Regions from separate parts of the Homo sapiens genome. Here region 1 is linked to region 2. Evidence: fine-mapped expression QTL. A gene starts in region 2. The other region holds a variant in brackets. All regions are shown on one strand. Distances are from middle to middle. Region 1 overlaps SOX2-OT (SOX2 overlapping transcript). Region 2 holds the start of DNAJC19 (DnaJ heat shock protein family (Hsp40) member C19).

Region 1 (8,347 bases), 420 kb after region 2:
AAATAGAAATGTATATGTATTTCAGCCTTGCCATCTTACACCTTCCTAGATTTACAATTTTAGTTCTCTTAATTAATAACCATAACTCTTTCCATTTTTTATAAAGTGTTCTGAAAAATGATCTAAAACTCTTGGGAAATACCTTACCAAAAAAGATCCTGCTTCAGAATAACCAAGATCTGGCTAAACAGGACTCTGTGGGGAGATGGGTGTGGCTAGCAGTAAATCCTGGGAACTTCGGATTTATAGGCCTACAAGAGATCTCCATAAACAGCCAGGATAGAGCAGGAGTAACTTCACGGCCGGAGGCAGGACACACACCCTCCACTCTTTCCTCTCCCACTTCTGCTTCTCAGTGTGCCCTCTCTGGAGTCTTTATGGAAGGCACATCACCTGGGAACTAGCATAGCATATGAGAAAATCCTGGGTTTAAATTCTGGCTTTGCCACTTGTGAGCTATTTAGCCTTGAGAGTGTTACTTTACCTCTCCAAGTTTCTTCATCAGTAAAATGAGGCTTATAGCATCTTACCCTTACAAGGCTTTTTTTTTTTTTTTTTTTTGACAGAGTGTCGCCCTGTCACTCAGGCTGGAGTGCAGTGGCATGATCTCGGCTCACTGCAACCTCTGTCTCCCGTGTTCAAGCGATTCTTCTGCCTCAGCCTGCCACGTAGCTGGGATTACAGGCGTGCACCACCAAGCCTGGCTAATTTTTTGTTTTTTCCTGTATTTTTAGTAGAGACGGGGTTTCACCATGTTGGCCAGGCTGGTCTCAAACTCCTGACCTCAAGTGATCGCAAAAGTGCTGAGATTACAGGCATGAGCCACCACGCCTGGCCCAAGGCTTGTTATGAGGACTTGAGATAAAGAATGTAAAGGGCCTGTAATATACAGTAAGAATCATTTTATAATGATTGTTGCAAAAGGAGAAGTTTCCTTGAATGCAATGTTAGGACAATAAGGGCTGCAATCCTCCTAATATCCAGGGTTCAAAATGAGCCTGGAGGGGAGAGGGTAGGAGAGGTAAGTAAGGTAGTGAAGGAGCTCTCAGATTCTTGCACATCAGCTGGGACCTTGTTAGAAATGCACAAACTCAGTTCTTACCCCAGACCTACTGAATCAGAGTCTGCATGTTAACATAATACCCAGGTGATATGCGTGCACATTGGAAGGGAAGAAGCATCGTTGTTAGATATTCCTCTTCCTCTGCTCTTCTAACTCCATCCTTTCTTCCCCTTGTCAGGCAAATATGACCACAAACCTCTTCTCCCGAAATAGCTCAAAAATAATCACAAAAAGAGTAATGGTGAACAACATGTGCCACATACTGTTCTACACACTTGGCACACTTGACATCCATAGATTTATTTAATCCCCCCAACAACACAATGAAATGAATACTATCATCCCCTTTCTACAATTGAGGATACCAAGACACAGGAAGGATAAAGTCACTTACTAGGGGTTATACAGCCAGCAGATACAGGTTCCTGGACCAGGGACCAGGCATTTTGGAACTAGAGTCCTTTCTCTTGACCATCACAGACTCCAGCTTTCCCTTTTACCTCTCCAAATCATGGGGGAACAAAAAAATGTGTTTCAAGCAATGATGCACCTGCCTCTAGAAATATAGGCTCACAAGCATTAATCTGCCCGCACATCCCCTGTCAGAGTTTGGAGCTGGATATCTTCTCCCTAAACTTAGGCAGTTGCTTCCTCAGCAGACTTGCAGCCTCTGGTCTTTCTCCCAGTCCAGGCTGTTCAAACACTGTAGCCAGAATTTTGTCTTTTTTAAGAGCAGCTCTGGTCACCTGTTCCTATGTCAAAACTTCAAGAGCTTTCTTATTTGAATAAAAGTTACTGCTTCTACTTGACATTCCGGTTTCCTGCTTGAGGCACGTCTTTTCTCAAGCCCGTCTTTCCAAAACTATCTCCAAACATCTCTCTTTCCCTCCCAGTACGTGCACATTCGTGGAGCAACACAGCCGTGTGCTCACTTCTCAGCTGCCACATCTTTGTCTCTTTCTAGAATGCATTTCCCATATTCTGTCTGCCTGAGCCACATTCAGGCCCCACACAGATACTCTATTCTCAAGAGACTTTTCTACATGTACAAAGTCAAGATTCATCTTTCTCTCTCTTCTTTTCCTGTTGAACTCTGACTCACTCGTAGGACTTACCACACCCTGTCTTCTATTAATATTGGGCATGTGCCCTGTGCTAGGCTAGTTAAATGTTCTTGAATAAAAATATTGACTGTAGATAATGAACACTAATCTACTTTCAAGTTCAACTTCCTGAAGCACATTTATTCAGCTTTCTCTATGGAGTATCTGGGCATTTAAGCAATTACATTATAGTATGTTGCAGGGGTGGTAGAAACTCCCCTTTACCCTGCAGCAGACTGCTCTGAGAAATCTGACTTATTCATTGATTTTTAACAGATGTGAAAAACAATCTTACATCTATAGCAATGAGTAGCTTTCTGGCTATAGTACTTTATTCATCTATTTTCCCTTTACACCTAAGTTCATTTTATATACAGATGTTTTTAAAAACACATTTTAGGCCGGGTGTGGTGGCTCACACCTGTAATCCCAGCACTTTGGGTGGCGGAGGAGGGTGGATCACCTGAGTTCAGAAGTTCGAGACCAGCCTAGCCAATATGATGAAACCTTGTGTCTACTAAAAATACAAAAATTAGCCAGGTGTGGTGGCATGCACCTGTAATCCCAGCTATTTGGGAGGCTGAGGCAGGAGAATAGCTTCAACCTGGGAGGTGGAGTTTGCAGTGAGCCAAGATCATGCCACTGCACTCCAGCCTGGGTGACAGTGTGACACTCTGTCTCAAAAGAAAAATGAAAAATCCCCACATTTAAAAAGTAGGCTGACCCCTAACTATTGTCCAAAATAGCTCATTTTCTAAAAAGCTGTACACTCTTTATGCAAGTTTACTTCTAGAAATCCCAAGAAATTATCATTAATATATTCAAAGATTAAGCTACAAGGATGTTCATTATAAGGTGACTTATGTTAGCAAAAATTAAAAAATAACCTAAATATTCAAAATAGTAGTGGTTAACTACATCATGATTATGTCCAACCCGTGACATGCTTTGCACTAGCTAAAATTATATTGAAATTGTTGGTGGAAACAAGTTTACGGTATTTTTTAATTGAGCAAAAATCATATGAAAGAATAGAAAAACCATAAATAGGCCCACATAAATATGTCCAACGGATTTTTTTTTACAAAGGCGCAAAAGCAATTTAATGAAAGAATAGTCTTTTCAACATATGATGCTGCAGCAATTGGGCATCCATAGGCAAAGAATAAAATAAATAGTTAAAATTATTTAATAATAAAGTTAAAATTATTGTGTAAAATTATTTTATATAATAATTACTTCATAATGGATCATAGATTTAAATGTAAGACATAAAACTAGAAAACATGTAGAAGAAAATCTTTTGGGCCTAGTGACAGAGTCAAGAGTCTTTATATATGACTGAAGATTTCTTATATATGAAATTGTATGGAGAAGAGAAGAAAAACTGACATTTTGGGCTGTGTCAAAATTAAAACTTCATGCTCTACAAAAGTCTCTGAGAGGAGAATAAAAAGACAAACTACAGGCTGGGAAAAAGTGCCAACCACATATCTGACAAAGGAATTGAATCTAGAGTAAAGAATTCTCAAAACTCAGCAAGACATAAAAAATTATAAAAACAAAAATCTAATTAGAAAATGGGCAAAACACATGAATAGACGTTTTATTAAAGAGGAGATGGAGATGGTAAAT[A/G]AATACACAAAAAGATGTTCAACATTATTGGCCATTAGGAAATACAAAGCCATAATGAGATGTTACTGTAAACCTATCAGTATAGCTAAAATAAAAACTGATAATAGTAGCAATGTTGGCAAGGACAGGGAGACACTGAACCACTCATACATTGCTGTTGGAAGTTAAAAAATGGTACAGTCACTCTGGAAAACAGCTTGGCAGTTTCTTAATAATGAAAACTTTTGATATGCACTTACCATACAATCTAGCAATTGCATTCCTAGGCATTTATCCCAGAGAAATAACAACTTATATCCTGGAGCAAGACCCTGTTTCAAAAAACAGACAAACAAACTTGTGTCCACCCAAAAACCTGTACGTGGTTGTTCATAACAATTTTGTTTGTAATAGTTAAAAACTGGAAACAATCCAAATATCCTTTGGCAATGAATGGTTAAACAAACTGTGATCTGTCTGTACCATGAAATACTCTTCAGCAATTAAAGGAATGAACTACTGATACAGCAATTTAGATGGATCTCAAGGGAATTATAGTGAGTGAAAAAGCCAGTCTAAAAAGGTTACACATGCATGATTCCACCTATATAACATTCACACAATGACAGCATTACAGAGATGGAAAGCAGATGAATGATTGCCGGGATTTAAAGATGCGGCAGAAGAAGGAAGGGAAATGAGTGTGACTATAAAGAGATAACACCAAGGGCTTGGTGGTGATATAATAGCTGGGTATTTTCATCATTGTAGTGGTTACATATATATATATATATATATATATATATATATAAATGTATATTTATATATATTGTTATTTATATATATGCATATATAAATAACAATATATATGTATATACGCGCATATATACATACATATGTGTATATACATATATATGTATGTATATATGTGTATATACATATATATGTATGTATATATGTGTATATACATATATATGTATGTATATATGTGTATATACATACATATGTATGTATATATGTGTGTATATACATATATAAGTATGTATATATGTGTGTATATACATATATAAGTATGTATATATGTGTGTATATACATATATATGTATGTATATATATGTGTATATGTATATATACACATATAAATATATACATATATATAAAAATATATATTTATATATACATATATCTTATGTATACATATATGTAGTGGTTACATATATATATATAAAATTGTATTTCTCTAATGACAAGTGATGATGAGCTTTTTTTTTCATATGTTTGTTGGCTGAATAAATGTTTTCGTTTGAGAAGTGTCTGTTCATATCCTTCACCCGCTTTTTGATGGGGTATTGCAGCACTATTCACAAAAGCAAAAACTTGGAACCAACCCAAATGCCCATCAATGATATACTGGTTAAAGAAAATGTGGCACATACACACCATTGAATACTATACAGCCATAAAAAAGGAGGAGTTCATGTCCTTTGCAGGGACATGGATGAAGCTGGAAACCACCATTCTCAGCAAACTCACACAGGAACAGAAAACCAAACACTGCATGTTCTCACTCATAAGTGGGAGTTGAACAATGAGAACACATGGACACAGGGAGGGGAACATCACACACTGGGGCCTGTTGGGAGTGGGGGGCTAGGGGAGGGATAGCATTAGAAGAAATACCTAATGTAGATAACAGGTTGATGGGTGCAGCAAACCACCATGACACATGTATACCTATGTTACAAACCTGCACGTTCTGCACATGTATCCCAGAACTTAAACTATAATAAAAAAAATTGCATGAAACTACACAGAGACAAACACATACACAGAGGTAAACGCTGTGAATTCTGAACAAAGCCTGTAATGTAGTTAAAGGTACTGTGCAAATGTCAGTTTTCTGCTTTTGATACTGTACTACATTTACATAAAATGTAGCCAGCCTGGCGGTGGCTCATGCCTGTAATCCCAGCACTTTGGGAGGCTGAGGCAGCTGGCTCAATTGAGGTCAGGAGTTCAAGACCAGTCTGGCCAACGTGGCGAAACCCTGTCTCTACTAAAAATACAAAAATTAGCTGGGCCTGGTGGTGCGTGCCTGTAATCCCAGTTACTTGGGAGGCAGAGGCACAAGAATAGCTTGAACCCAGGAGGTGGAGGTTACGGTGAGCTGAGATCAGTGCCACTGCACTCCAGCATGGGGGACAGAGCAAGACTCTGTCTCGAAATAAAAATAAAATAAAATAAAATGTAGCCAATTGGGGAAGCAGGGTGAAGGATATATTGGACTCTTTGTACTATTTTTGCAATTTCTTTTTATTTTTTATTATTTTTAATCCACTCATCTGCACACAGATATATTTGCAATTCCTTATAGTTTATGATTATTTTAAAGTTTTAGAAGTCTATAAAACAATATGTGTACTTCAACTATGTATAAATAATTTTAATTTGATGTCTCTCAGTTGCTCATATAGCAGTATTTGTTACACAGTAGGCACTTTATTAAAGAGGCTCTCCTTTTTCCCCTTAACCTTATGGATATTATGAATCTTGTACCTGACCATGCTTCCTCCTTAGCTTGTGGCACGAAGCAGCACCCCTGTTGACTCTGGTATACTAGGTTATGCTTTCCTGTGCGTGCAGCTCACCCTTGGCCTTATTACTGTTCAATCTTTATTCTTCCTGTGCCTTACCTTTCTTAACCCTTAAATGTACCATTAATATATTTGACCATTAATACATTTAAGGATTAAGCTACAAGGATGTTCATTATAAGGTGACTTATGTTAGCAAAAATTCAAAAACAACCTAAATATTCAAAATGGTAGTGATTAACTACCATAGATGCTGTACCTCTCACATTACATATATGCTTGGAAGCCACGTTAAATATCTTGTAGAAGGTGTTGGGATGGAGGGTACCGAGCAAGTGTTGATGGATTCCCGTATTCTCCACCATGACTAGGCACCAAAAGAGGACCCTTCCCTGTTTCTGCAGCAGATAGATTTTTCAGAGTTTAAGAGAGCCCACTCTGCTTCAAGCGGGCCCACAGAGTTCCATTTAAAGTAGATCTAATAAAGAAATGGCAGGCAGAATCACTTAATACGTTCAGCACTTGATTCTTCAAGTGACTATTAGCTGCTCTGTGTAAAGCCTACAGCAAATTCTTAATCTTCAACCAGCTTTCACCTATCATCCAGCTGTTTTTTGCTTAGGGAATTAAAGCTGATGTTTATAAGTAACTAAGCAAAATACAATTAGGAAGGAGCTCTATTTTAAAGGAGGTATGTGATACATTCCAAAAATAAGTAGGTATCCCAGATTGTAACTTGATTTTTAAAAAATCAATTTTAGCAAATTAGTCATAATATATTGTTACAGTTATTGATCATTTTTTCTTCCATTGAAAAGTACTGTCATTGATAAAGAGACGAAGCTCATATTTCCTAAACATTAATAGTGAAAAAAAACATATGCAAATAAGTATGAAGATATTTTCTATGGCTCTTGAATTGGACCAAGATATGTGTGTTCTGGTATATATGCTTAAAATCCTTCCACCTGGTCAAAATGCTTTCAAAAGGGAAAGAATAGCTGATGCCTCTTGTTCAGACTGGAAAGTATTGTGATTACACTGAAAAGCATGGCCCCTCTTGAAGTTTAGTTTTTTACTTCTTTTATTTGAGTATAAAGCAAAAAGGAGGTTTCTCTAAGATGTCCTAATAGAAGCTTTTGAATGATCTGCAGAGGTAGCATTGAGGTGAATGGAGTCCATCAAGATTTGCCAGAAGTATGAAATAATTATCGAAAGGATTCCATTAGAGACGAAAGCTACCTAGACTAATAGAGACAGAAAAGGCTGACCCTTTTCAGGCTCTTAACTCTCTCTAATGGATGGCCTTAAGTTGAAATCAAGACTCAACTGGATCATTGATTCTTAAGGAAAAAATATTGAGCATAGTGGCGTATAAGCAAAAATTGTAAAAGTGGTCAGACAGATTTATCTTTTAGTTATAGTTTGTAATGAAAAGTATGTTTTTTACCTTTTTCTGCGCTCACAGGAATGGAGGCTAAACAATGTGACATATTATCATAAAGTAAAAATTAGTTTTAATAAAAAAACAAAAGTCTTACTTTAATAAATACAACATGTTTCCACTCAACAAAAAGAAATCTACAGATTTTTTGGATAAGTGTCATTATGTGTTACCTATTAGATAACACAGAGTGTTTTTTGGCTGGTAATTGACCCATAGGTCAAATCCTGCACTTTCCTCTGAAGGGATCATGGAAGTGCTACTCCTTCACAAGTTTTGGAGCTATATTTTGCAGTGCATGCTTCAGTAACCCACATGCAAAGCACACACTCACATACAGACCAGGCATATCCATGCACAGGCACACACACCTGGCTAGGGTAAACAGGATCAAATCCCTGAAATTATCTAAAATTTCCTGTGTTTGTTGAAAACAGTGACTGATGCCTTTGCGTTGGTTGTTCCAAAGCACTTCATTGCGGCTCGGTAGAAGTGTTCTGAGTGTCAAATTGGTAATTAAGTGGTTTGT
Region 2 (8,347 bases):
CGAGAATTTAATGACTACTTACCTTTGTCAGGATGATTTAAAAGCATAATTCGTCGATGAGCATCTCTTATTTTCCCTTTATTGGCAGTAGGGCTAATTAAAAAAAGAAATGGTATTTACTTCATCCTACTTCTGCATCACATCAAAAAACTGTACATAAAGGCCAATTAAAGACACTGTGAAACTGTAGTAAATTAACACAACAGTATGAAAAGCTGTTTAGAAACCTCAACACACCCAATGCGTATCCTAAATTGGGAAACTACTTAGAAAAGTAAGGCACTCTCAAAAATGTGTTGAACTTGCAGTACCCATTACAACAGTCCTTTTATTGATAAGAAACGCATGTTTAAGGATTTGAAAATGAAGAAGGAAGAGTTTTGTTTTTTTTTTTTTTTGAGATAGTCTCACTCTGTCCCCTAGGCTGGAGTGCAGTGGCTTGATCTTGGTTCACTGCAACCTCGGCCTCCCGGGTTCAAGCGATTCTCCTGCCTCAGCCTTCCGAGTAGCTGGGATTACAGGTGTGTGCCATTACGCCTGGCTAATTTTTGTATTTTAAGTAGAGACGGGGTTTCACCATGTTTGCCAGGCTGGTCTTGAACTCCTGACCTCAAGTAATCCACTGGCCTTGGCCTCCCAAAGTGCTGGGATTACAGACGTGAGTCACCGCGCCCGGTTGAAGGCAGAATTTCACCACAAAAAAAATGTCAGTTACAGAGAACAACACTGAACACTGTGATAATCTGCTGAGGAGTCTATCTTTAAATAAATGAAAAAGTGCCTGTGTTTTAGTAAACACTCTAGGAAAAAAGAAAAAGTGCTTAAGTGCTAGTGTGCCTTCTCATTTGAAGGATTGTTTACATCTTAAAAATAACATGAAGGAACAGTACAGTTTCATTGATTAGAATTGGTAATATCAATCTTCCTAGGACAAAATCCCCCATGACCCTCTCCTATTAAAGGAGAGAAGGTCTTTCTTATATTTCCTCATGGCTCTACAGTGGTAGAAAAATGCTAAAAATATTAGAGATTATTTTACCTTACACCTAGTATTAATGCTGCTTCCCGTTTTGTCATTTTGGGTTCAAACCCACCTCTATAATAGCCACCACTGAAGGCCTGAAAGAAGAAATGCATTTGTAAAGAAAGGTTAATAAAATAAAGTTGCTTTAAAAAAGACGTCTGGAAATATTCACAGAACTAAGAAAAACTAAGACATTTCAGAGGACTTTTAGTGCAATTCCCGAGGTATTTTAGCTAAAGCTGAATAAAGTTTATAAATAAGTAGCAACAAGTAGTATTTTAATGATCATTAAACAGATTCATTTTTTTCCAGTCAATATGAACTATCTTAGAAATATAAGACAAAATAACAGTGTCTGAAAGCCAGGTCTTCCGGGAGTAAAGGAAAGATCATTCCAAATTAGCCATATTCTAGATAAAAATCTGCAAGAAGTGGCTCAAGAACAGAAGTCTTTTGAGACAAGAGGTTCAAGTGTATTTGAAACAAGACTTTAAGATATATATACAGAAAATACCACTATTAGGTCCTCTGACCTTGCCATGTCAGAAATCATATTGGTAAAGCCTACAATCACTCTATTCTGTTACACTTAATCACAACATATTCAACAGGTGATCACAGCCAAATCTATTCTTAACTGTGACCACAGAGAGTATGACCATAACATCAAGCCAAACCCTATAGCCTAATTAACTAGAGTGCTACCTATGTATGATGTTTGGGAGTGCCAGGGCCACATGGTCAGATCGGATCACTTTAGAATCATATACCTCTGTGTGTGCGATGCAGAGCAGATGAAGGAAAACAAGAATATGTACAGATGATGCTGAAGGTGATGGTATGTGAAAAAGTGAAACTTGGGTCTAGTGGGGTACTAGAATTGTCAAAACCCCATCCAACTCTGTCACATATAACATCTGATGTTTCAGGGTAGCACCATCACAAAGTTCAGAACTTCTATACTCTCCTTGCAGGAAGCAGGAGAATGGGTCCAAAGCAATCACTTAGAACTTCATGGATATTTGGAAATTTACCCTTCCCTAAGTGTGGCTCTAGGTTTCAAATAGAAGCAGCAAAGAATTAACAAAGTCTTACAGATTTTGGTAGGCTTTGAAAAACTTGTTTTACTTGAGGCTCCATATGCTTCATGGCTTGCAAAACGTAACGGCCTAAAACCAAAAGCAACAGAATAAGTAAACTAAATCTCCAATCTCCCCGACTTCACTTCCATCCCCAAACCATAAACAAACCTGCAAATCCTGCAGCAGCAATGGTCAGTCCAACTGCTACCACTGTACTGGCCTGGTAAGGGGGAGAAGAGTAAATATTTACTTCTCTAATTCCCACCCTTTCTCATTTTGCCCATTCTTCCATCCCCAACTCATTACAAACTGCATTTTAATAGGAGAAACAACTTTTTTTTTTCTTTTTTTTTTTTTTTTTTTAAGAGACGGAGTCTTGCTATGTTGCTTAGGCTGGTCTTGAACTCCTGGCCTCAAGCAATCCTCCCACCTTGGCCTCCCAAAGTGCTAAGATTATAGGCATAAGCCACCATGCCTGGCAGAGAAACAACTTTTAAGGCGGAAATATTCTGTCCAGTAATCTTTAAAACTACTGCATCTGTTATGCTGAATGCATTAAAGTTACAGGATTCATCATATGGGAAAGAGGGCAAGTTCGACTTGCTTATTTATCTTTACAATAGTGAAAAAGATGATTCCCTCCCTTTGAAAACTTCTTTCATCACCAGACAAATTAAGTCACATTAAAGTTCAATCAAAAGTAGTGGAAATAGGCCAGGCGCGGTGGCTCACGCCTGTAATTCCAGCATTTTGGGAGGCGAGGCGGGCGTATCACTAGGTCGGGAGATCGAGACCATCCTGGCTACCATGGTGAAACCCCGTCTCTACTAAAAATACAAAAAAAAAAAAAATTAGCTGGGCGTGGTGGTGGGCGCCTGTAATCCCAGCTACTTGGGAGGCTGAGGCAGGAGAATGGCGAACCCGGGAGGCGGAGCTTGTAGTGAGCCAAGATTGTGCCACTGCACTCCAGCCTAGGCGACCGAGCAAGACTCTGTCTCAAAAAAAAAAAAAAAAATGTGGAAATAAGGTTTCTGCTACAGAAGGAAAAACTGTTTACAGACGGCTCCTGTAAAATTCTAACAACGCATTTTCGAGGCTAAACGTGGGCTAAACTAGGAGACTAATACCTTTGGCACTGCCCTGTTGTTTCCTAACAAGACAGGCCCAAATATGTTCAGGAAGCATGGAGAAGACATCTGTCAGCAAAAGCCAAAGAGAAGGACATAGCAAAGTGGAGCTAGTGCTGTGAAGATGTGTTAGGGCAAGGGCACTTATAATCAAATACGTTTCCACTAATCTCCGAGTCCATGACAGCCTCTGACCTTACAGGAGTTCCAGGCAAGCAACACCTGCAGAGCCCGTGCGGACAAGAAGCTGGAGAACCGTGCAGAAAGACGATGTAAAAACACAAACCCCCAAGAGAGCGAGCCAACAGGGTTGTGTCCTGGTGAGTGTGACTCCCCAATAACCGAAACCTCCCGCCCGCAGTCGCACTAAGGAGCACAACTTCAACTCCACACCTCCGAGGCGGGGAGCTGAGGTTGAGGCCTGGGCCGGAGGTCGCCAAGAAGACCGGAAGGCCGCACTCACCATGGCTCCGGCTGGGCTCCCTTGCTTCCACCGGGAGCACGGCTCATCCCAGCTCAGAGGCCGCGGCCAACACCTGCACGCCTTTACCAGAGAGCGACGCAACCCCCAACCTCAAGCACAGGCGCCCTACGCAACACGGCAGGAGCAGCCGCAAACTAGGCCGGAAAACTGTCGTAAAAGGGGACGCGGAGGAGAAGGAAAGTCGCTCAAGCAGTGGACAGAGCGGAGAAAGCGACTTCGGGTTGGTTGAAGGGTGGGCGGATCTCTTTATTTCTGGGTGTAGGGGTGGGGCTTCTCTGTGTTTTCTGTCCTTTGCTCCTGGGCGGTGGGTATTTGGAAATTCTTGCAGGGAAGGGCATGGGCAGCCTTACTCAGACCGATTTTTTCCCCCTACATCTTAGCACCTCGTTTTGCCTTTATTTTATGTTAATAATTGTCAAGGGTAATGAATGTAGTTAAACATGCTGTGACATTTCCACCACGAACCCAAACAAATATGTTGTAACCCAGTGTAGGAAACGAGATGCCCAGAAAAACAAATGAAACCAACCACACTGTGTTTCAGGGATTGCTCGGTAGCATTTTTTAATGTAAAAGAACTTCATTTAAGGATGTGACTTGACAAGACTTTGTGAATATTTGGGTTTTCGTTTTGTAGAATGGGATTAAAGACAGTTCATATTCTGAACATGGAATGTCAAGATCCTACAACTGAAAAGGGCTATTTAAAAGTTTTCCTCCTCACCCAAAATAAAAAGTAGGGCTGGATTTTGCCCTTACGTGGACATCAGTTTCATACATCCCTACATAAATGCTTGAGAAGAAAAAAATAATGGAGACAATAATGGAATTTTACAATGCAACGTTTGCATGATCAAAATAAGTTTGGAGTTACTTCCCACTCAGAATTTACAGTGTTAAATATCCGTTTACATTGCAATGCAATTCTGCTTTGATGAGTTTGTTAGTTATTAAACAAATATGCAAAATTTTTGGGTTTGTTTTCCTCATCTGTAAAAGCAGTTTGCATTTGATAATCCAAGAGCTCTTCTAGCGCTAAGGTTTTTGTGATGTAATTTATTGTCAACACATGATTTAAGGTGACATCCAGCACTAAGACACTAGCATTAAGTTTATAACTTCCTCTTTTGCCTCTCTTTTATCTGGTTTTTACCCAACAATTACAAAATAAATAATCAAGTGAGGCATAAGACCTTGGGACCAAATTGGCATCAACAAGCTAGAATGCTATCTGGAAAAATTTATTATGCATATTTTTGGTATGTACAAACTGTGTAATGCAGTTTCTGGAGGAATAGATTTACAGTAGACTCTAATTAGCTTTGAGACTTTACAAAACCCAGACTCAGGAAATTGGGAGTAGCAACACAGCAAGACATTTTGTTGAGCTGGAGATAGCTCTTTTTTTGGTGGCAGATCAAACTGGAGGTAACCTGGCTCTGTCACTTACTAATACTGTGACTTGGAAAAGTTATTTCTGATTGAGTTTCTTCCTCATTTGTAAAATGAAGGTAATGATAACTACCTTGCCGAGTTTTTGTGAACGTAGAGATTATGCACATATTGTGTTCTGCTTATGGTCATCACTCAGTGTGGGGCTATTATTATGAGGGAAGCCAGAGTGCAAATTGGAGTGTAGAAGCCTTCCTCATTCTCATGATACCTCACTCATGAATCTTAAGTCTGGTTGCCTCTTACCTACCTGCCAAGATCCTAGAAACAGCCTTGAAAAGTAATCTTTTTAAATGTCCACTGACTGATGAATGGATAATCATTCCTCATTTCTTCTAGCTTCTGGTGACTGCCAGCATTCCTTGACTTGTGACTGAATCACTGCAGTCTTGTAAGCCAGCATCTTGAAATCTCACTCTGCTCCAACTTTTCCATCTTCACATTGTCCTTCTCTTCTGTTTGTAAAATCTCCTTCTGGTTTCCTCTTAAAGGATATATGTAATTGCATTTACCAGCTACCCAGATAATCCAGGATAATCTCCCCTTCTTAAGATCCTTAACTTAATCATAGTTTCCAACACTTTGCCATATAAGGTAACATTCACAGGTTCCAAGTATTAGGACCTGAAATCTTTGGAACACATTATTTAGTTTACTATAGAAAGTAATAAAAGACAAAAGAGGGGGTAGGGACAAAAGAATGAGAAAGGACTCAAGCACATCTTCTTAGTTTCTCATCCCAAATTTTTAAATCAGGTAAGTCACTTCTCCTTGGGAAGAAATAAGTGAGAGTTGAGAGCGGTAGCTAAGAGTGTTCTTGCACTGTGGCTTTCAAACATTTTTTGACTGTCATCCTTAGTAAGAAATATATTTTACACTGTGACCCAAGGAGCAAATACATACTTGCACGCACAGATATACATAGTAGATTTATTTATGAGATAATACTTATCCTTACTTCATGAAATGCATGCTGGTCTTTTCTGTTTCTTAAAAAAATAAGTGCTAGAAAACCTACTAAACTCACAGCCCACTAATTGATCATCACCTAAAGTTTGGAAATTATCACTGCAAAAATCCACACTTGGAACTATAATGCCAGGCAAATAAGGGGTTCCCCCACCAACTAAAAGCCATACGCCAGACATTGTACTAAATGCTTTACATAGATTGTTTCATTTCACCCTGTGAAAGTAACATTTACTTCACTATATTGCTATATTGCTTTGCTATATTGCTGGATGTATTTTGCTTTTCCCCAGATCCTCTCTCTACCTTTTTTTCCTGCTCTGTGCTCCAGAGGAACAGAAAGGTTAGGAGGGTGACCTTAATGAACTGTATCCATGAGCAGCTCTCTCGTTTTCTGGCTTAGGGTTCATTTAGGTCTGTGATCAGGAGATCAGAAGGCAGGAGGAAAGTGAATTCATGGTTTTTATTTCTACCTCTCACTTTCTGGTGATTGTTGTAAGCTGACTGAATTGGTCTGCTGAAGAATACAGCTCCTGTTGTGTGCAAGTGTTCTGGTCATTACTCCTTCCTGTTGCTCCTTCACATTTAAGTATAGTCATGCCTTTGCTACTGGCCCCTGCTTGCTAGGCACAGGGCACTGGAACATTTTGTGCCAGTTTCCCTTAATCCTGTCCACATCTTTGTAAACAGTCCTCTTATTAAACTCTCCATTTGGCCGTGGTGTGAATGTTTGTCTTCCCCCAAATTAATATGTTCAAAGCTAATAACCAATGCGATGGTATAAGGAGATGGGGCCTTTGGGAAGTGATTAGATCATAATGGTAGAGCCCTTGTGAATCAGATTAGCGCCTTCATAAAGAGGCACGAGAGAGACCCTCACCCCTTCCACCCTGTGAGAACACAGTGAGAAGGAACTGTCTGTGAAACAGAAAGGGCCCTTACCAGACACACATGCTGCCTTTGTCTTGGACTTAAGGGTGAAAAGATGGCTGTCTATGAAGAAATGGGCCCTCATCAGACACCAAATCAGTTAGGACCTCACTCAAACTTCCCAGCTTTCCAGAACGCTGAGAAACAAATTTCTGTTTTTATAAGCTGCCAGTTTATGGTATTTTGTTATAGCGGCCCAGACTAAGGCAGTGTACCATCTGTTTCCAACATGAATAGTGACTATTATTTTTATGCTATTTTTTTTTTTTGAGTCAAAGTCTTGCTCTGTTCCCCAGGCTGAAGTGCAGTGGCATGATCATGGCTCACTGCAGCCTCTAACTCCTGGCATCAAGTGATCCTCCCTTCTTAGCTTCCCAAGTTACTGGGACTACAGGCATGAGCCACTGAGCCCAGTTTGATGATGACTTTAATAAGAGGCCGTTGCAATAATTCAAATGAAAAATGATAGTAGCAGTGGTGGTAGAGTGAAGTGGCTGGACTCCTGCTTATATATTTAAGGTATAGCTGAAAAAATTTGCTGATGGATGAGGTATAGTGTGTGAGAGAAAGAAAAGTCAAGAGTGACTCCAAAGCTTGAGGCTTTAGCAGCTGGAAGGATGGATTTGCCGCTGAATGGAACTAGAAAAACTTCAGGAAGAGCAAGCAGGAAGTGGAAGGCTTTTGCCATGTTAAGTTTGAAATGCCAATGAGATATCCAAGTAGTGCTGTCCAATAGGCAGTTGGACATACAACTCTGGTGTCAAAAGAGAGGTTTGGGAGTCATCAGCCCATGGAACAGGTAAAGTCATCTTTGCATGAGTGGAGACAGAAAGAAGAGGAATAAGAACTGTGTTTTGGGATACACCTGTGTTTGGAATCTGGGGACATGAGGAAAAAAAGAGAAAATTATTTAATAGACTGAAAAAGGGTAGGCATAAACCAGGTAAGTGTGGTGTCTTGGTAGCCAAGTGAAGAAAGTGTTCAATGGAGGAAGGAGTGATTAACTGTGTCAAATGCTGCTAATATTCTTCTGAGGGAGAGCCTTTGGAAACCAAAAAGCAAAACAAGCAAACAAACAAATGTTGCTAGTAGTCAAATAATAAAGAATTGAGAATTGACTATCGGAGATCATATTCATGAGAATTTCTGTGGTGTGATGGGAATGAAAGTCTGATTGGAGTGAGTTCAAAAGAGGATGGGAGGATAGAGAGTGGAGATATGGATTATAAGAAATCTCTTTTGGCCGGGCACAGTGGCTCACACCTGTAATCCCAGCACT

Evidence for each region.
Region 1: its variant is fine-mapped to the expression of DNAJC19 in testis (GTEx, PIP above 0.99). The same link has a PIP of 0.9 or more in esophagus mucosa, fibroblasts and transverse colon.

Annotation. Positions count from the first base shown.
Region 1 is chr3:181,402,287-181,410,633 of GRCh38, forward strand. All of the region lies in intron 3 of SOX2-OT (SOX2 overlapping transcript), which reads left to right. Among named protein-coding and RNA genes, the nearest start is that of SOX2, 310 kb to the right of the region's middle. The variant A/G (reference allele first, on the strand shown) is at 3,802.
Region 2 is chr3:180,985,904-180,994,250 of GRCh38, forward strand. DNAJC19 (DnaJ heat shock protein family (Hsp40) member C19) reads right to left here and starts at 3,833. Exons shown (of 6, transcript NM_145261.4): 1 at 3,697-3,833; 2 at 2,275-2,326; 3 at 2,120-2,193; 4 at 1,040-1,119; 5 at 23-93. The coding sequence starts at 3,699.